4 separate regions of the Homo sapiens genome follow, and all the other regions are linked to region 3. The links come from fine-mapping of genetic effects on plasma protein levels. A gene starts in region 3. Each other region holds a variant in brackets. All regions are shown on one strand. Distances are between the middles of the regions. Region 1 holds the start of CXCL16 (C-X-C motif chemokine ligand 16). Region 2 has its middle 13 kb from the start of TM4SF5. Region 3 holds the start of VMO1 (vitelline membrane outer layer 1 homolog). Region 4 has its middle 5.6 kb from the start of TM4SF5.

Region 1 (5,144 bases), 46 kb before region 3:
CAGCTACTCAGGAGGCTGAGGCAGGAGAATCTCTTGAACCTGGGAGGCAGAGGTTGCAGTGAGCCAAGATCGTGCCACTGCACTCCAGCCTGGGTGACAGAGTGAGACTCCATCTCAAAAAAATAAAATAAAATAGTACTTTGATTTCAAGAAAAATATTAATAAGTAGACAATAGCACACGTGGTAGAATGAATTGGCAAAACTCATGAAGGTGATGGTGAATGATCACCCCGTTTGGCAAACAGGGACTCGAGTCTAAGTACTTTGGACAGGATCAGAAGAAGGTTCTAGGAATGTGCGGCCCCAGGGGAAAAGGCTCAGGTAAAGAAAACTGTCAGGTGGAAGCTGCTAAGCCCTGGAGGCAGAGCCTGAAGAGCAGTGGAAAAGTCTCACCTTTGAGATCAAGACAGCTCATCAATTCCTGAACCCATGGGTCCTTGTTGCCCCCACACACGCTCCAGGAAAGGAGCTGGAACCTGCGGAGGAGAGACCTGGGCTTAGCTGCGGCGCCTTCTTTCCTTCCCCGGCTCCTTCCTCATTCCAGAGGCGTGAAGTTGCCACCAAGAAAGAGCCCTTTCTCCTGGGACTGGGAAACTCCCCAGTAGGTGAGACGGAGTCATGAAGTTTCGGGGAATGAGAGCAAACGGAACCCGGAGATGGGGCTCGGTGAGCCGGGAAGGAGTTCAGGCTGGACCAGAGAGGGTCCTGGAGGCACCTGCAAGGAGGGGCCGCCCAGGCGCTGCCCTCGCAGAGGCAGGTAAAATTACCTCGTGTAGTATAGACACCGATGGTAAGCTCTCAGGTGTTTCCGGAGACGATTCATGAACTGAACCGATGGCGGGGAGTCGGAAGAAATTCTTTTACCACAATAACAACTTCCAGTGACGCTGCCCTCGTTGCCATTGCCTGCGCGGGACGGAGGTGGTCGGCACCCATTCCCAGGCCCAGGGTCCCCACTCCGCTGTTCCCTGGCATCCAATCCACAGCCCCATGACAGCCTCTCGGTGGACCCAGGGTCAGAGCGCCAGGCTCAACCCACACATCATCACGCCCCCGACAACATCCATAATCCCGCCCGGAGCCAGGCGTCCCCGGGCCTCTGTCCCCAACCCCAGGCGGCTGGCTGGCTTTCCTCTTGTCCCCGCTGCCTTCATCCACTCAACTCCGTGGGCCTCGTGTCCCCTCCCCAACTCACCCCCTTCCCGTGACAGGGGAATCTGGGTCCCCTGCCCCGCCCCCGGCTAACCTGGCTGAGTCAGGTACACCAGCAGGAGCAGAAGCAGGAGCAGGAGCACGCGGGACCCGGGCCGCAAGTCCCGTCCCATCTCGGGGCTCCGCGGACTCTGCGGGGATGGAGCCACCTCGCTCTGACTCCCAGACATGCTCCGGCGCGTGACGTCCAGCTGGTGTCTCAATGGCTTTCGCCGGGGACCGGAGGAGACGGCGGCCGGAGAGGAGGCGCGAGCCAGCTGCACCCCCCGGCCCTGCTGTGCCCCGACCGTGCGCTCAGTACTCGGCCCGCGCCATGCCAGCCTCTGGACGCAGGGAAAGCCGAGGAGGTGGAGCTCCCGCGCCCTGCGCCCCCGCACTGGGCCCGGCTCCGTCGAGGGAAGGCCAGGAATCTTGGAAGAAACCGAAAGAAAACTCCGGCGGCGGGCGAGGAGGGGCGGGAGGACGACGGCCCGAGGAGCCGATTCGGTTCGGTTCAGGAGGCCGCCCGCCTGGCCCGTCCGCCGACCTGTGAGGCGGCTGCACTGCCGGACCGGCCCTCCTCCTCCGAGGCACTTTCACTTCCCCGATCCGGGCGCCGCGGGACCCAGCCGCGCTGCATGAGCCTCCCGGGCGGCCCGGTGGAGAGAGTCGCCGCCAGCCCCGGCCGCGCGCACCTGCGGGGCAGCCACCCGCGGACGCACCGAGCCCGGGGGGCGTGGCCGCCCGCTGAGCCGGCGAGGGCTCGGGCAGCCCTGACGTCACAACCGCACCCGCGCACCCTCCACCGCGAGGTATTTACCTTCGAAAAGTGGTGGCGGCTGCAGGTACCGGAGGAGTGGGGCGGCCGGGAGGGGCTAGGTCTACCGGGGCTGCCCGCCACGCAGATCCGAGCCCAGGGAACCCCCTCGCTCCCACTCCCATACCCCACAGACGCATCCAAAATGCTTCCCTCCCCACCAAACCGTTCCCGATAGGATTAGCCCTCTCTCCTCTCTAGCCTTAATTTAAACTCTGCTTTTGAGGGTGTGAACTCTCCAATTTTAAGCCCCAAATACCATCTCATCCCTGAGTAGTCTTCTCCAACCCTGGTCACCCACTTTCAAGTCCAGCCCCCATTTTCCTCCCTAAACTCCCATCCTCAGCCCTGAAAAATCCTCTTCTCCGCTCCTAGCATATCCACGGATCCAACCCTAAGTGACTCTCAAACCTACCCTCTCCCTCAATTTGTGACCCAGCCCCAAACTCCATCATTGCTCTCCTGTCCCTCACCATATATCCCTTCTTTTGCTCAGTCTGGGCCGGGGCCCTGTGCCGCTGAAGACATGGAGTTTGTGTCTGGATACCGGGATGAGTTCCTTGATTTCACTGCCCTTCTCTTCGGCTGGTTCCGAAAGTTTGTGGCAGAGCGTGGAGCTGTAGGGACTAGCCTTGAGGGCCGCTGCCGGCAGCTGGAGGCCCAGATCAGAAGGCTACCCCAGGACCCTGCCCTTTGGGTGCTCCATGTCCTGCCCAACCATAGTGTGGGCATCAGCCTGGGGCAAGGGGCAGAACCAGGTCCTGGACCAGGCCTGGGGACTGCCTGGCTCCTGGGAGACAACCCTCCACTCCACCTGCGAGACCTGAGCCCCTACATCAGCTTTGTCAGCCTAGAGGATGGGGAGGAAGGGGAGGAGGAAGAGGAGGAAGATGAAGAAGAAGAGAAGAGAGAGGACGGGGGTGCAGGCAGCACAGAGAAGGTGGAACCAGAGGAGGACCGGGAGCTAGCCCCTACCAGCAGGGAGTCCCCCCAGGAAACAAACCCTCCAGGAGAGTCAGAGGAGGCTGCCCGGGAGGCAGGAGGTGGCAAGGATGGCTGCCGAGAGGACAGGGTGGAGAACGAAACAAGACCCCAGAAGAGGAAGGGACAGAGGAGTGGTAAGAACCCAGGGCTGGCCCTGCCCTACCCCTTGCCCAGCCATCCTCCCTTCGGAAGCCCTCCCCTGCCACTAGTTCTGAGTGCTGGCCTTCAGGCCAATCTGGCCTGAAAAGGTGTTTTTATTGACCCACAGTGGGGTTTTTTTTTTTAATTTAATGTTTAAACATTGCAAGAAAAAAAGTATCCAGAAGTCTGGATTTACACATTCCCAAGAAAAATCTCAAGCTCTGACAGTGGGCCTACATTTCTGCATGGCAGCGCATTCTGGTCCTCTGTAGCAGCTGTCCCCTTTAGAAGGAGCGTGCCCTCTCTACCCAGAGCCCTTTACTCAGTGAGGTTACTTGCCTAGCCCCGTAGGTATTTGAGTTTGGTACTCCTGACCCTGACCACATTTGTCTCTCGCTGCCCCCTACCACCTCAACTTTTCCCTCTTTCCCCAGAGGCTGCCCCCCTGCACGTTTCCTGTCTCTTACTTGTGACGGATGAGCATGGCACCATCTTGGGCATTGATCTGCTAGTGGATGGAGCCCAGGGAACCGCAAGCTGGGGCTCAGGGACCAAGGACCTGGCTCCTTGGGCCTATGCTCTCCTCTGTCACAGCATGGCCTGTCCCATGGGCTCTGGGGATCCCCGAAAGCCCCGACAGCTTACTGTGGGAGATGCCCGGCTGCATCGGTATAGAAATCTGGTATCTGAGGCTGGGGAGGACTCGGGCCCTGGATTCCCAAGCACCTCCTCCAGCCTGATGCCATCTCCCCCCCAACTGCATTTAGAGAGCTGGAGAGCTTGGTCCCAAGGCTAGGTGTGAAGTTAGCCAAAACCCCAATGCGGACATGGGGTCCCCGGCCAGGCTTCACCTTTGCTTCCCTTCGTGCTCGAACCTGCCATGTGTGTCACAGGCACAGCTTTGAAGCGAAGCTGACACCTTGGTGAGCAGCCCCAAAGCTGGGGGAGAGGAAGACCCCAATAGGCAAATAGAAGGAAGGCAGGGTGGTGGGGG[GC/G]GCCTAGCAGACAGAAGGAGAGGCAGGGACATGAGAAGATGCAGAGGAAACAATACAGACTGTTACAGGCGGTTAGAGGGTGTAAGACAAACAGACCGAGTGACATATGGGCAGCTGCTGGGCAGTTGAACAGCAGACAGGACCTACAGAGGTTAACACTAGGTGCCCACCACCCGCTGTGTCCCCAGCCCCCAGTGTAGTGCTGTCTTGTATTGTGGAGAGGCTTGTCTCCGGGCTGACTGGCAGCGGTGCCCAGATGATGTGAGTCACCGATTTTGGTGCCCAAGGCTTGCAGCCTTCATGGAGCGGGCAGGAGAACTGGCAACCCTGCCTTTTACCTACACCGCAGGTACCATAAGGAGGTCAGAATGGTTGGGGGAAACTGGGACCAGGTCTTTGAGACTGGGAATTAGATGTCTGGGAACAGGGTCCTGCAGTTGAAGGCTGAGTGTCTGGGGCTAGAGCCTAGATCCCTGGAACAAGGGCAGGGGCTGGGTGTTTGGGGCTGGAGACAGGGTCTCTGAAGCCGAGGCCTGAGTGTCTGGGTCCCTGAGAGCGTGCAGGGATTGGGGGACAGGGATTCAAACACTTACTTGCTTCCCAGCTCCACCACTAACTGCAGTGTGACCTTAAACAAACCACTTTACTTCTTGAAGCTTCCGTGTCCTCATGAGGGATACGGAGAAGGCCCATGGAATTGTTACAAGGATTATCTTGGCTTGGTGCCTGGTACGCTGGAGGCACTCAGAAATGGTAGTTCCCGGCCTGACTGGAACCAGACTTAGAACCAGGGTCCTCGCGGGAGGCTAGGGAGAGTTCAAGGCTGGGGTTCTAGGCCGGGCAATGGTTCACACCCGTAATCCCAGCACTTTGGGAGGCCAACTTGAGCCCAGGAATTTGAGATCAGCCTGGGCAACATAGACTCTGTCTCTACAAAAAATAGAAAAAATTAGTCAGGCATGGTGCACTCGCTTGTGGTCACAATTCTCGGGAGACTGAGGTGGGAGAATCGTTT
Region 2 (5,145 bases), 28 kb before region 3:
CACGTTGATCGAGTAGCATCGCAGTTACAAGCACAGAACTAAGCAGAGGCCTCCTAAGTGTAAGCCCCAGCTTGACTAACTTCTGCTGTGTAGTCTTAGGCAAGTCACTTTATTTAAAAAAAAAAAAAAAAAAAGGTCGGGTGTGGTGGCCTTTTTTTGTCTCTTAAAAAAAAAAAAATACAGAGGTCTCCCTATGTTGCCCAGGCTGGTCTTGAACTCCTTAGCTCAAGGGATCCTCCCCGTCTGTGCTTCCCAAAGTGCTGGGATTACAGGTGCGAGCCACCACACCTGGCCAGGCAACTTACTTTCACTCGGAGCTACATCCACTCATTCAGCAAATACTTACTGAGTGCCTACTCAGCTGCAGGGTGCTACCCTAGGTTAGTTGTGAGGATTATATACAACAAAGTATGAGAAGCCCCTAACACCAAGCTTAGTTCATTATCAAATAATAACATGGCTGGGCGCAGTGGCTCATGCCTGTAAACCCAGCATGTTGGGAGGCTGTGGCAGGAGGATTGCTTGAGGCCAGGAGTTCAAGACCAGTCTGGGCAACATAGCGAGATGCTGTCTCTTAAAAAACAACAACAGCAACACACTCCTAAAAATCTGTTATTATTTGTGCCCCATAGTGTGACCTTGGCTCACTGCAGCCTCAACCTCCTAGGCTCAAGCAATACTCCTGCCTCAGCCTTCCGAGTAGCTGGGACTACAGGTGTGTGTCACCATGCCAGGCTAATTTAAGTAAAAATTTTTTGGAGAGACAGGGATCTCACTGCGTTGCCCAAGCTGGTCTTGAACTCCTGGCCTCAAGCAACCCTTCTGCCTTGGCCTCCCAAAATTCTGGGATTACAGGCATCAGCTACCAAGCCTCATCTCATTGTCTGTTTATAATCATCTGTACTTGCAATTTGAATATTCTCACTGATTAGAACTATTTTGGGATTTTTTAAGAGGTCGCTGTTACTTAAACATTTAGAAATTTCTGGTTTATTGCATTATGGTCTGGGTATCAGTCCAGTACAATTTCAAGTTTGGGGAATTTCATATCTCCTTCACGGCCTAATATTTGACCAAGATTTGTAAATGTTTTATTGGCATTGAAAAAGGTAGGTTCTCCATTTATGAGATACAAAGTCAAGTAAATAGCACTTGAATACATGCTCCAGGAGGATGGAGGCTCAGGATGTTCACCGATGATGTATTTATGGCTGATATCTTCCTGGTATCCAGCAAAGGGCCTGGCACATATCATTTAGTAAATATTTGTTGAATGAGAGGCTAACTAATCAATCAACTTTATCATTGAGATTCTCTGTTTCTTTATACGTTTGTATATTTTTCTTACTTTGTCGAAGAGAATTATATTACAGTTTCCCACTACTATTATATTTCTGACAGTCTCCCTCGGCATTTCTAACTATTTGGGGTTTTTTTTCTTTTCTTTTTTTTTTTTTTTTTTTTTGAGACTGAGTGCCCTTTCTCATAAAACACCAACCACTTCCTCTATGGAAATAAATTTATTCCCAGTACCTTCTTGGGTCTTGCAAATATTACAGCCAAATGCATTTTTTTTTTTCTGGCATGTCAGTGTCTGCTCACTGTAGAGGAGGGTGAACAAGTTCTGGTCTCCTGATCTCCAGGAGTCTGAGCTAGGAGAAGGAAGAAGAGAGAAATGTCAAAGGGCTATATTTGCAGGGTTTCTATGGAAAAATCTGATTTCAAACAATCTTCATCATCTGAGATGGTTTCCCTTCTAATGACTCCATCTGGTCCTCACGTCGATCTTAGTTCTCAGGAGCTGATAACTCTGGCCTTGCCTTGCTCAGAGAGCATTCAACCCCCACTCCTCCCCAGGTCACATTGCCAAACACCTTCAGTGGCAATTCATGGGTCCTCAGAAAAGCATCACTCTCATTCCTGGTCTCCCTCCCTCCACTGCTCTCCTCTACAATCCCACCTCAGGTGATCCTCCCGCCTCGGCCTCCCAAAGTGCTGGCATTATAGGCATGAGCCACCGTGCCTAGCCCGGAATCTGCTTTTAACACCATCTTCAGGAAATCTGTATGAAGTTACGGTTTGAGAAGTACTGAACTAAGCAGACAGCCAAGTAAGAGCCCCTCCTGTCCAGGTCTAAGGGTAGTTCCGATTCCCTGACCAGCAAATCTTGAGTAGCTGCCTCCCAGTAGCTGCCTCCCAGTCACTCTCTACCACACCACCCTATTTCCTTCATGTAATTTAGCATAACCTCTAATTTCTAGTTTACTGCCTGTCTCCCCAAACTATAATATAAACTACGAAGAGGTACCTCATCTGTCAAGTTTAGTGCTGTATCCACTGGGTCCACAACTAGGCACATTACACAGAGGGTACTCGATCCTGCATTTCACTGACTTAAATACTTTCAAGTGTTATACATCATGCTTTTGTTTGTTTGTTTGTTTGTTTATTTTGAGACAGAGTCTGGCTCTGTCGCCCAGGCTGGAGTGCAGTGGCATCATCTTGGCTCACTACAGCCTCTGTCTCCTAGGTTCAAGCGATCCTCCTGCCTCAGTCTCCTGAGTGGCTGGGACTATAGGCGTGCACCACCATGCCCGGCTAATTTTTGTATTTTTAGGAGAGATGACATTTCACCATGTTGGTCCGGCTGGTCTCAAACTCCTGACCTCAAGTGATCCATCTGCCTCGGCCTCCCAAAGTGCTGGGATTGCAGGTGTGAGCCACAGCACCCGGCCAAACCATGATACAATGCTTTCTTAACACTTCAATTTTTATTTTATGCTAATTGAAGTCTCTTTCAGACCATTAAAAAATCTAATTCTGGTGCGTACACAAAAACAAAAATAATATGGTTAAAATATTCCAAAAAAATCTTTAAAGTCTGACTCTTCTGAATCACTTTCTATCAGTGCCTGTGTTGCTGTCCCCTCTACTGTCGAGGGCATTGGAGAAGCGGAATTTCTTTAAAAAGTGCTCCACTACTGTCTCCGAGATTTTCTTCTAAGCTAGTGACACATTCTTGTTTTACCAAATAG[T/C]GTCAACAAAATTGATGTCTTCACTAACAAATTTTCGCTCCACTACTTTATTTCTATGCTTAATACATCATTTCCTTTTGATTTCTGTTTTAAAGCATGTTATCTTTTTGAAGATTTTTTTTCTTAATAGCATTTATTTATTTATTTATTTATTTATTTATTTAGAGACACGCTTGCTGTCACCGAGGCTGGAGTGCAGTGGTGTTATCTCGGCTCACTGCAACCTCCGCCTCCTGGGTTCAAGCAATTCTCCTGCCTCAACCTCCGGAGTAACTGGGATTACAGGTGTACGTCACCATGCCTGGCTAATTTTTGTATTTGTAGTAGAGATGAGGTTTCGCCATGTTGTGCAGCCTGGTCTCAAACTCCTGACCTCAAGTGATCTGCCCGCCCCGGCCTCCCAAAGTGCTGGGATTACAGGCATGAGCCACCGCACCCGGCTGAATAGCCTTTATTTTTTAAAAGCAGTTTTAGGTTCACAGCAAAATTGAGCAGAAAGTACAGAGTTTTCTTTTCTTCTTCTTCTTTTTTTTTTTTTTTTTTTTTTTTTGTAGTTTTAGTAGAGATGGGGTTTCACCATGTTGCCCAGGCTGGCCTTGAACTCCTGACCTGAAGTGATCCGCCCGCCTCGGCCTCTCAAAGTGCTGGGATTACAGGCATGAGCCACTGTGCCTAGCCGAAAGTATAGTGTTTTCTTATACTCCTACCCCCACACATGCACAGCCTCCCCCACTATCAACATCCGGCACCAGAGTGATAGATTTGTTCCAATCAGTGAACTACATTGACACGTCATTATCAGCCAAAGTCCATCGCATAGTGTACATTAGGATTCGCTCTTGGTGTTGCACGTTCCATGGGTTTAGACAAATATATAATGACGCACCAGTATATATATAGTATCATACAAAGAAGTTTCACTGCCCTAAAATCCTCTGTGCTCTGTTTATTCCTCCTTCCCCTCCCTACCAACCCCTGGCTGCCACTGACCTTTTCACTGTCTTCAGAGTTCTGTTTTTTTCCAGAAAGTCATATACTTGTAGCCTTTTACTTTTTTTTTTTTTTCTCCCTTAAGATGGAGTTTCTTTCGCTCTTGTTGCCCAGGCTGGAGTGCAATGGCAAGATCTTGGCTCACCACAACCTCCGCCTCCCAGGTTCAAGTGATTCTCCTGCCCCAGCCTCCCAAGTATCTGGGATTACAGGCATGCACCACCATGCCCAGCTAATTTTGTATTTTTAGTAGAGTCTGGGTTTCTCCATGTTGAGGCTGGTCTCGAACTCCTGACCTCAGGTGATCCACCACCCTCAGCCTCCCAAAGTGCTGGGATTACAGGCGTGAGCCACCACGCCCGGCGGTTTTGGTTTATTATTATTATTATTATTTATTTATTTTTTTTAATAGAGACAGGGTTTCACCATGTTGTCCAGGCTAGTGTTGAACTCTTGGGCTCAAGGGATCTACCCACCTCAGCCTCCTAAAGTGCTGGGATTACAGGTGTGAGCCACCACACCTGGCCTTTTGTTTGTTTTTGTTAGAGACAGGGTCTTGCTCTGTCACCCAGGTTGGAGTGCAGTGGCACAATCACAGCTCACTGTAACTTGCAACTCCTGCCCTCAAGCAATCCTCCCGCTTCACCCTCCCAAAGCACTAGGATTACAGGCATGAGCCACCATGCCCAGCCCTACTGGAGCTTTGTAGTAAGTCTTGATGCTGGGTCGTGTCAATCTTCCAACTTTGCTCTCTTTCAATATTGTGTTGGCTATTCTGGGTCTTTCGCCCCTCCAGACAAACTTTAGAATCAGTTTGTAAATATCCATGAAATGGTTTTCTGGCATTTTGATTGGGATTGTGTTGAAGATACAGATCAATTTGGAAAGAACTGACATCTTGACAATGTTGAGTGTTCCTATATATGAACATGGACTCTCTCCATTTATTTATATCTTCTTCGATGTCTTTCATCAGAGTTTTGTAGTTTTCTTCATGTAGATCTTATACGTATTTTGTTAGATTTATATGTAAGTATTTAATTTGGGACAGTGCTAATGTAATTGGTACTGTGTGTTATTTGAAGACATTATAAACAGCAATTCAACTCAAGAAGTGTAG
Region 3 (5,145 bases):
GGAAAAGACACTGTAACCTCTTAAGCTCTAGAAAATGGAACTGTAAAGCCATTGTGGCCTTGTCACCTCCTAATTTGATAGAATTTTTTTTTTTTGCTTTTTTTGACAGGGTCTCACTTTGTCACTCAGGCTGGAGTGCAGTGGCACGATCTCGGCTCATTGCAGCCTCCACCTCCTGGGCTAAAGCAATCCTCCTGCCTCTGCCTCCTGAGTAGCTGGGACTACAGGCGCACACCACCATACCCCTGCTAATTTTTGTACTTTTTGTAGAGAGGGGATTTCACCATGTTGCCCAGGCTGGTCTCCAACTGCTGAGCTTAAACAATCCACCCACCTCAGCCTCCCAGAGTGCTGAGATTACAGCTGTGAGCCACCACATCTGGCCATAATTTGGTAGAATTTTCTTAATCTTAGGTCACTGGTTCAGAAAGGAGACAACCTAGGCACCTAATGGGGGCAGGGTGTCTGCAGACTCTCTCAGAAAGCCAGACTTCCTGGGCCCGCACGATGGTGCAAGCCGGTAATCCCAAAACTTTGGAAGGCTGAAGCCAGTGGATCACTTGAGGTCAGGAGTTTGAGACCAGCTTGGCCAACATGGGGAAACTCCATCTCTACTAAAAATACAAAAATTAGCTGGGCATGGTGGTGGGTACCAGTAGTCCCAACTACTCAGGAGGCTGAGGCAGAAGAATCGTTTGAACCCAGGAGGTGGAAGTTGCAGTGAGCCAAGATCATACCACTGCACTCCAGCCTGAGTGACAGAGTGAGACTCCAAAAAAAAAAAAAAAAAAAAAAGCCAGACTTCCATCACTTGTCTGAAAATTATCTGTTTAAGTGCGTTTTTCTCGAGTCCATAACTTTTCAGCAATCTACCATAGACCCCTGAGACCAAATCCAAATGTATGCCTCACCTAATGCTAAGTTAGGAGGGGAAAAGGAGACTCAGTTCCCCATCCCTTAAACAGGCGAGACCAGCCGGGCATGGTGTCTCACGCCTGTAATCCCAGCACTTTGGGAGGCCAAGGTGGGCGGATCATGAGGTCAGGAGATCGAGACCATCCTGGCTAACACGGTGAAACCCCGTCTCTACTAAAAATACAAAAAAAAAAAAAAAAAATTAGCCGGGCGTAGTGGCGGGCGCCTGTAGTCCCAGCTACTCGGGAGGCTGAGGCAGGAGAACGGCGTGAACCCGGGAGGCAGAGCTTGCAGTGAGCCGAGTGAGCCACTGCACTCCAGCCTGGGGGACAGAGCGATACTCCGTCTCAAATAAATAAATTAATAAATAAATAAATGAAATAAACAGGCGAGACCAAAGTCAACTCAGAGAAGCTTTAATAGCAAGAGGTGGGACTAGCCTCCTGGCCCGGGAGAGAGCGGCGGCGGCGGCGCCGTTCAACTGCGGCAGCAGAATAAGCGCGCGTCGTTCAGCGCAGTGTCATCGCCGAGGCCTCTAGGTCCCTGGATCTTGGTCTGCAGGCCGCACGCGCCCTTGGGGCAATGGTCACTCCAGTCTCCAAAGTCTCCCCAGCTCAGCCCAGGCCCCTGCAGTTCCTCGCCGTCTGAACAGCGGAAGCGCACGTTGTTCGCTGCTGTGTTGTCACCGAGGGTCGTGGGTGCCTCCACGCGAAGCGAGAAAGCCACTAGGTAGGCGCCGCCGCGACACCACAGCGGCTCACTCCATTCGCCCCAGCTGCAAGGCAAAGGGAGATGCGTTGCCTCTGCGGGCCCCCCATTCACCAAGCCCTTGAGACTTTCCAAGCCAAGTGCTGTGTATATGACCTGGTGGGCTGGGTGCTCCCCGACCTCCGCCGAGGAGCGGAGGAGGGGTCTTCCATCCACCCTTCGCCTCCCCGGTCTATACTGCCCCGTAGCTCTGGCGGAGCCAGCCTGCCTGTTGCGACGGAGTATGTAATAGAGGGTAAGGGACATACCATCACCCCAAGGGATCCTCGACCCCTGCGCCCCACCTTCCAGACTGGGACTCTACCACGTGCGTATTGCCTAGGACGTTCCCGCGCGCGCAGTGCAGCCTGATCCCATTCAGTGCAGTGTCGTCGCCAGGAATGCCTTGGGGAGGCTCCACCTGGGTATCGAGGAGAGGGGCAAGGGCGAGTCACGGAATTATCATCCTTGGCTCTATGGTCCCACGCATCTCCGCCCTCTCCAGGACCTACGCCTGAGCCCCAACCTTGAGCGAGAACCCGCTGGCGAAGAATCCATCGGGACACATCTCAGGCCAGGCCCAGTCGCCCCAGGGACCCCCGCTGGTCACTTCGATGACCGCCGTGTAGCCGTTCCGGCCATCTGTCTGTGCACATGTGAAACCAGTCGCCCGCAGAAGCAGCAGCAGCGGCAGCAGCTTGGCTCCTGCGCCCCGCTCCATCCTGTAGCGTCTGTGAATCAGGCCTCCTAAGCAGATTTATATCAGTTTGGCCTCTGTGAGGGCTCCGATTGCGGAAGGGCCTCCCAGATTAAGTGAAACCCAAAACTAATCCACTCCCGGAACCCTATTTCCTGCTCCCGGAGGCAGAGGCTCCCAGAGCTAGGGTAGGAGGGGCAGTGAGAGAGGGCGAATTAAAATAACCATCACCTACTGAATATTTACTATAGGCTACGAATTATGGTTAGCGCTTTGCAGTATTTTGTTTAACCCTCACAACAATTTTTGGGGGGTGAGAATTATCCTTCCTATTTTGTAGATGAGGGAACTGGCTCAAAAATGGCAAGCAACTTGCCTTAGGTTTACAGCCAAGCAAGCTGGGAAACATTCCAGCAGTGAGAGTGGAGACAGAGCAGAGACCAGGGCTAGGGATGGAAGTGACCTCCCGGGAGTCCCACCAGTGACGGGATGGGGCAAGAGCAACCCAGAGACCTCCAGGATGTGAGGGGACATCAGAGTGAGGATAGGACAAGAATCCTCGAACTGGAGAAGCTGAGAAAACTCCTGTCAGCTCAGAAGTCTCTTCCTCCTCTGAGAGGTCTTCTGAGAGCTCAGGGCCCTAACACCTTGAGAATCCGGGACACTCCTCCCTACCTTAGAAGAAGACATATACAAACAGAAATAATTCTTTTTTATTTTTATTTTTTGAGTCGAAGTCTCACTCTGTCGCCCAGTGGCGGCATCGCAGTGGCGCGATCTCGGCTCACTGCTACCTCCACCTCCTGGGTTCAAGCGATTCTCCTGCCTCAGCCTCCCGAGTAGCTGGGACTACAGGCGCGCGCCAAGACGCCGCCCCGCTAATTTTTGTATTTTTAGTAGAGACCGGGTTTCACCGTGTTGGCCAGGATGGTCTCTATCTCTTGACCTTGTGATCCGCCTGCCTCGGCCTCCCAAAGTGCTGGGATTACAGGCATGAGCCACCGCGCCCGGTCCAACAGGAATAACTCTAAGAAGTTTGGGGACAGGAGACTAAGAACCCCTAAGAAAAGATCATGCTGTTTCTTCCATTGCTTTCTGTATCCTTATATCCTTTCCTGGAATGCCTTTCCCCCTGTGACCACCAGATGGACTCCTAATTTGCAAAACAAAAAGCGAGAAAATCTGGCTAAGTATGTTTTTTGTTTGTTTGTTTGTTTGTTTGTTTTGAGACGAAGTCTCACTCTGTTGCCCAGGTTGGAGTGCAGTGACGCCATCTCGGCTCACTGCAACCTCTGCCTCCCGGGTTCAAGCGATTCTCTTCCCTTAACCTCCCGAGTAGCTGGGATTATAGGCGTTCGCCACCACGCCCGGCTAATTTGTATATTTTTAGTAGAGACGGGGTGTTGCCATGTTAGCCAGGCTGACCTCAGGTGATCCGCCCACCTCGGCCTCCCAAAGTGCTGGGATTACAGGCGTGAGCCACCGTGCCTGGCCTAAAAATGCCTGGCTAAATTTGTTAGGGGCCACAACCCCAGATTTACCTGCCCCTCATACACACTCCTTTGTTTATTCAATACCTATTTAGCAATAATATGTTTTGGCTTAAGCAATATTCCACTTGCTGTAAGCAAGAATAACAAGGCCCCTGTCATCAGAGGTCACATTCCAGTGGGGGAGACAGAGGATAAATTCTCCCCCAGTGGACCTTGAGCTCTGTGAAGGCACTTTTGTATTCTTGAAGCCTAGTACGTGCGGAAGTACTTAATAAAAGTTGGTGCAATGAATGATTGAAGAGCCAATCTGGAGTTTTGAAAATTAAACCACAAAAATGCAAAAGGATAAAGCCTGACGTACGTATATGATTGCAAGAGGTCATGTATCCAGGTCAAGACAAAGTCCCCTGGGAATAAGATAGAGAATTTAGAAGTGGGTGTTCCCGGCTGGGCGCGGTGGTTTACGCCTGTAATCCCAGCACTTTGGGAGGCCAAGTTGGGCGGATCACAAGGTCAGGAGTTCGAGACCAGCCTGTCCAGTATGGTGAAACCCTGTCTCTACTAAAAATGTAAAAATTAGCCGGCACTTTCCAGCCTGGGCGACAGAGCGAGACTTTGTCTCAAAAAACAAAAAAACAAAAAACAAACAAAAAAAAAAAGAGAGCGAGAGAGAAGTGGGTGTTCCCTGGATCCCAGAGCCGGACAATGCTTGAACTTAATAAGATTTATAGGGCAATTGTGGTCAGCTTTTCCATTTAGTGTTTTCACATACGTTATCATTTAATCCTCACATGAGGCTTGCAAAGTACCTATTATTATCCTCAATTTACAGTGGAGGGAACTCAAGCCCAGAGTGAATTTAGGGCCCACACCACTGCTCAGTAGGGGAGCTGTTCTGGGCCCTGCCTCTCTTCCCAATACTCAGAGTGCCTCTTGCTACAGCTGGCCCTACAGGGAAGGGAAATGCACTGATCTGTCACTGCTGTCGAATCCCCCAAATTCCCTTCACCCAGTTCCTCGCACCCAGGGTAGCTGCCCTTTGGGGCGAAGGGCACAGGGGAAGGGGCCTTAGTAGGTTAATTATTAATCCTTTGCGCCTCAGGGCACCACGGGCTTCTGTCCCCTCCTGGAGGCGGAGGGACACGGACTGGCTAGGCGCTGGTGAGGGGGCGGCGGTCCCAGCAGCAGGCATGGGAGTGGCGGCGCGGCCCCCAGCCCTGCGGCACTGGTTCAGCCACTCAATTCCTCTCGCTATCTTCGCGCTGCTGCTGCTTTATCTCAGTGTTCGGAGCC
Region 4 (5,145 bases), 20 kb before region 3:
ACAAAAGAAGTTAGAAAAAATAGGGTTTTTTTGTTGTTGTTGTTGTTTTGACACGGGGTCTCGCTCTGTCGCCCAGGCTAGAGTGCATGCAGTGGCATGATCTCAGCTCATTGCAACCTCCGCCTCCCAGGTTCAAGCGATTCTCCTGCCTCAGCCTCCGGAGTAGCTGGGATTACAGGCATGTGCCACTACGCCCGGCTAATTTTGTATTTTTATAGAGATGGGGTTTCTCCATATTGGTCAGGCTGGCCTCAAACTCCCAACCTCAGGTGATCCACCTGCCTTGGCCTCCCAAAGTGCTGGGATTACAGACGTGAGACACCACGCCTGGCTAATTTTTGTATTTTTAGTAGAGATGAGGTTTCACCATGTTGGCCAGGCTGGTCTCAAACTCCTGACCTCAGGTGATCCACCCGCCTCAGCCTCCCGAAGTGCTGGGATTACAGGCGTGAGCCACCGGGCTTGGCCGAAAATATAGTCTCTAGCTTAGCAGCCATGTGCCTTTAGCAGCAGACTACAAAGTCTGCTACTATAATAAAAGCAGAAGACTGGGACTAACTCACTATCTCTGTCACATACTAGGTCAAGCATGTGCTACTCAGCTATGGGCAGTGAGTACGGAGCCACAGAGTTTAGACAGATTCCCTGGAGAGGATATTCGCTGGATGCCTCCCCATCATTCATTCTGTCTTTCCTCCTTCCTAATACTGCCCTTAATTTCCCAGCCTGGTGGCTTAGACAGAATTGACAACACCCCCTGTGCTGGAATGCCTCCATGTGAAGAAGGACATGTTTGCTTCCCCTTCCGCCATGATTGTAAGTTTCCTAAGGCCTCCCCAGCCATGCTAAACTGTGAGTCAATTAAACCTCTTTCCTCTATAAAGTACCAGTCTCGGGTATGTCTTTATTAGCAGCGTGAGAACAGACTCATACAGCATGTTCTACCCTCTGGCCACAGTGATCCGTGTAAGGGACAGACATAGAACCCAGTCTGCACCAAGGAGAAATTTTCTGGGGTAAATGGGAAAGAAACTTCCTCTCTACTCAGGGAAAGCTATGCGAGGAGATTCTCTTCCTCCTGGTGGTAGGGTGTAAAGACATAAGGTCTGAACTGCTGCAGCTAATACTACTGTCAGGAGGAAGATCCCACTTAAGGAGGAAGTCAAAGCCAAAAAAAGGAACAGCAGAGAGAATGGCAGAGAAACAAGAACACTGATGACATCCTGAACTTCTGGACCAAACTGCACCTGCAGTTAGTCCTACTTCAGTCCTACTGGATGTTTTGATTGCTTGAACCAATAAATTCCCTTTTTGTTGCAATAGAGTTGGGTTTTCTGTTACCTGGTATAGTTCCTTACAATGGACCCAGAGTATGGCAAGCAATAATGACATATTTAATAGTATTAATATCATTTTTAGAATTTACATTATACAGCTGCCCTTTAAAAGAATTTTTTTTTTTTTTTTTTTTTTTGAGACAGAGTTTTGCTCTTGCCCAGGCTGGAGTGCAATGGCGCGATCTTGGCTCACTGCAATCTCCACCTCCCAGGTTCAAGCGATTCTCCTGCCTCAGCCTTCCCAAGTAGCTGGGATTACAGGCATGCGCTACCAAGTCCAGCTAATTTTGTATTTTTAGTAGAGATGGGGTTTCTCCATGTGGGTCCGGCTGGTCTCAAACTCCCGACCTCAGGTGAGCCGCCTACCTCGGCCTCCCAAAGTGCTGGGATTACAGGCGTGAGCCACCACGCCCGGCCACTTCAAAAGAAATTTTTACGGGGCTAGGTGCAGTGGCTCACGCCTGTAATCCCAACACTTTGGGAAGCCTATGTGTGCAGATTTCTTGAGCCCAGGAGTTCAAGACCACTTGGGCAACAAAATGAAACCCCATTTCTACAAAAAATACAAAATGATGGCTGGGCTCGGTGGCTCACACTTGTAATCCCAGCACTTTCGGAGGCCGAAGTGGGCGGATCACCTGAGGTCGGGAGTTTGAGACCAGCCTGACCAACATGGAGAAACCCTGTCTCTACTAAAAATACAAAATTAGCCGGGCGTGGTGGCACATGCCTGTAATCCTAGCTACTAGGGAGGCTGAGGCAGGAGAATCGCTTGAACCTGGGAGGCAGAAGTTGCAGTAAGCTGAGATTGCGCCATTGCACTCCAGCCTGGGCAACAAGAGTGAAACTCTGTCTCAAAAAAAATATATATATATATATTTACATATATACACACAAAAAGATTAGACAAGCATGGTGGGTGGTGAACATCTGTAGTCCCAGTTACTTGGCAGGCTGAGGCAGGACGATCACTTGAGCCCAGGAGATAGAGTTTGCAGTGAGCCAAGATCATGCCACTGCACACCAGTCTGGACAACAGAGTGAGACACTGTCTTTAAAAAAAAATGAGACTGGGCACAATGGCTCTGGCCGGGTTGTGGTGGCTCATACCTGTAATCCCAGCACTTTGGGAGGCCAAGACAGGTGGATCACTTGAGGTCAGGAGTTCAAGACCACCCTCCAACATGGTGAAACTTAGTCTCTACTAAAAATATAAAAATTAGCCAGGCCTGGTGGCCCATGCTTGTAATCCCAGCTACTTGGGGGGCTAAGGCAGGAGAATCGCTTGAACTCAGAAGGCTGAGGTTGCAGAGTCAAGATGACGCCACTGCACTCCAGCCTGCATGACAGAGCAAGACTCTGACTCAAAACAAAAGAGAAGAAAAATATTTTTTTCCAAAATGTGCATCCAGTTTTGTAACCAGATATATGAAATTTATTTAGACTTACGTCAAGACTTCCCCATTTTGGGGTTTTTATTTTACTTCATCTCTTGGTGAGTCAACACAATTTCTCTAAAAAAAAGGAGCCAAAGTGTTATTTTGAAATCCAAACATTCTCAGAAATGCAATTGTGTTGCCCTTAACATACAAAATGCAACTTAGACATGTATATGATAGTTCTACCTTTTTTGGTGGACACAGCTGCCTTACTCCTTTGTCCTCTGACATTCAGTATTTCAGAGAAGACTCTGGCCACACCAACTATTGTTTCTTTCTAAGTAGCCTTTTTAAATTCTGCCTAGATGTATCCTTTAATTCAGATATTTTGTCAGGATGAATCTATGGTCAGCTGACTTTTAATATTTTACCTGCCGTGCAGTATAACTTTCAACCCACTGACCTGAGTGGATCTATCTGCGCTCAGTGA[C/T]GTCTTCTCCTAGTGCAGATGTTTTAACTGTGGTGTCACTTCCACCAGTTCTATTCTTGTTCTTAGGAGAAGCCAGTTTCCTGAATTTTTTTTTTTTTTTTTTTGAGCCAGAGTCTCACTCTGTCACCCAGGCTGAAGCGCAATGGCGTGATCTTGGCTCACTGCAATCTCCACCTCCCGGGTTCAAGCGATTCTCCTGCCTAAACCTCCTGAGTAGCGGGGATTACAGGCACCCGCCACCATGCCCAGCTAATTTTTGTATTTTTAGTAGAGACGGGGTTTCCCCATGTTGGTCAGGCTGGTCTCGAATTCCTGACCTCAGGTGATCTGCCCGCCTCGGCCTCCCAAAGTGCTGGGATTACAAGCGTGACCCACTGAGCCTGGACCTTTTTTTTTTTTTTTTTTTTGAGATGGAGTCTTGCTCTGTTGCCCATACTGGGGTGCAATGGTGCGATCTCGGCTCACTGCAACCCCCACCTCCCGGGTTCAAGCGATTCTCCTGCCTCAGCCTCCTGAGTAGCTGGGATTACAGGTGCCTGCCATCACACTTGTCTAATTTTTGTATTTTTTGTGAAGATGGGGTTTCGCCATGTTGGCCAGGCTGGTCTCAAACTCCTGACCTCAGGTGATTCACCGAGCTTGGCCTCCCAAAGTGCTGGGATTACAGGCGTGAGCCACCGCGCCCGGCCAGCCTTTTCTTTCTTAAGTTATTCTGTTCCTAGTTCCAGGAGAATTCTAGTGATGTCATCAAAAATCTTCCTGGAAATCTCTTCCAAATCCTATAGTAAATGTTCCTCCAGAGGATTCTGTTTCTTTCAGTCTTCAGGTTGATTTGCCCTTCCCTGGTTTTGAGAAAATTTTTCAGAATCCCTATAATGTTTTGTTAACATTATTAACATTATTTCATTCATCCAGAATTGTATAAAAATAATGTAATGAATGCCTGTGGACCACCCCACCCACACAACTATTTTTTTTCTCTTTATTCATCCTCAAAACAGACACCATTTGGCTGGCCGCAGTGGCTCACACCTGTAATCCCAGCATTTTGGGAGACCGAGGTGGGTGGATCACCTGAGATCAGGAGTTCGAGAGCAGCCTGGCCAACATGGAGAAACCCTGTCTTCATCTCCACAAAAAATACAAAAATGAGCCAAGCGTGGTGGCGGGCACCTGTAATCCCAACTACTTGAGTCTCCTGAACCCGGGAGGCGGAGGTGGCGGTGAGCCGAGATCACGCCACTGCACTGCAGCCTGGGCAATAAGAGTGAAACTCTGTTTAAAAAAAAATAAAAAAGAGGCACCATCTCTCAGAATCAGCTTGAGCAACTTGTAGACAAATAGGTGGCCAGCTCTTGGCCCTGCTCTCTGTCCATCAGATCAATGGCTGAATCCCCTCTTCAGGTCCACGGTTGGAAGGGCCACTATTCGGGATATGACAGTTGCTCTGGTAGTTCAACATTAGTGCTGGTGACAACCTCTCATCGGCCACCTCCTGAGGAACCAGAGTTTTCCAGTGCCTGTGCTTCTCCCTCTGGCGCTGTTTCAGAGTAACTATTCTCCATACACTTCTCTTGCTGTGACTTCTGCTTATTTCTGGTGTCAGTTGCCTCTGGCTTTTGATTGCTTCTTTCTTGCATACAACTCTCAGTTTGAAGCCACCCCACTCTCTGATGACTGTCTCAGCTTGTCTCACAGACACATTTCCCAATCATGAAGATCCAGTCGGTGGATTGGTCATTATCCAGTCAGTGTACCTCTGTTGGATGGAGTTCTCACCTCGAGAGACCTCACAGGTCGCTGGCTACATGTCTGCCTTTGGGTCAGCTACTTGTTCCTCAATCAACCAGCCCTGGCCTAGATAAGGGGGTCTGTGTTAGGAACTTGTTACTGGGCAACAAACCATCCCCCTCGACGAAGTCTTAGTGTCAAATAAATA

The links. PIP is the posterior inclusion probability: the model's chance that the variant is causal. The UK Biobank Pharma Proteomics Project read protein levels with antibody pairs (Olink). The fine-mapping took linkage between variants from a reference panel, not from the people measured, so its PIPs are less certain.
Region 1: its variant is fine-mapped to the plasma level of the VMO1 protein (UK Biobank, PIP 0.96).
Region 2: its variant is fine-mapped to the plasma level of the VMO1 protein (UK Biobank, PIP above 0.99).
Region 4: its variant is fine-mapped to the plasma level of the VMO1 protein (UK Biobank, PIP above 0.99).

What each region holds. Positions count from the first base shown.
Region 1 is chr17:4,738,014-4,743,157 of GRCh38, forward strand. CXCL16 (C-X-C motif chemokine ligand 16) reads right to left here and starts at 1,915. Exons shown (of 6, transcript NM_001386809.1): 1 at 1,248-1,915; 2 at 769-907; 3 at 395-477. The coding sequence starts at 1,326. It overlaps ZMYND15 (zinc finger MYND-type containing 15), which reads left to right and starts at 1,820. Exons shown (of 14, transcript NM_001136046.3): 1 at 1,820-2,037; 2 at 2,506-3,127; 3 at 3,569-3,803; 4 at 3,902-4,057; 5 at 4,318-4,478. The coding sequence starts at 2,536. RefSeq lists enhancers at 428-1,333, 1,334-2,238 and a silencer at 1,787-2,006. The variant GC/G (reference allele first, on the strand shown) is at 4,129.
Region 2 is chr17:4,756,153-4,761,297 of GRCh38, forward strand. No RefSeq gene overlaps it. Among named protein-coding and RNA genes, the nearest start is that of TM4SF5, 13 kb to the right of the region's middle. The variant T/C (reference allele first, on the strand shown) is at 3,036.
Region 3 is chr17:4,783,970-4,789,114 of GRCh38, forward strand. It overlaps VMO1 (vitelline membrane outer layer 1 homolog), which reads right to left and starts at 2,395. Exons shown (of 3, transcript NM_182566.3): 1 at 2,189-2,395; 2 at 1,968-2,083; 3 at 1,316-1,690. The coding sequence starts at 2,383. The coding sequence ends at 1,393. It overlaps GLTPD2 (glycolipid transfer protein domain containing 2), which reads left to right and starts at 4,995. Exons shown (of 4, transcript NM_001014985.3): 1 at 4,995-5,145. The coding sequence starts at 5,043.
Region 4 is chr17:4,763,681-4,768,825 of GRCh38, forward strand. No RefSeq gene overlaps it. Among named protein-coding and RNA genes, the nearest start is that of TM4SF5, 5.6 kb to the right of the region's middle. RefSeq lists a silencer at 384-546. The variant C/T (reference allele first, on the strand shown) is at 3,207.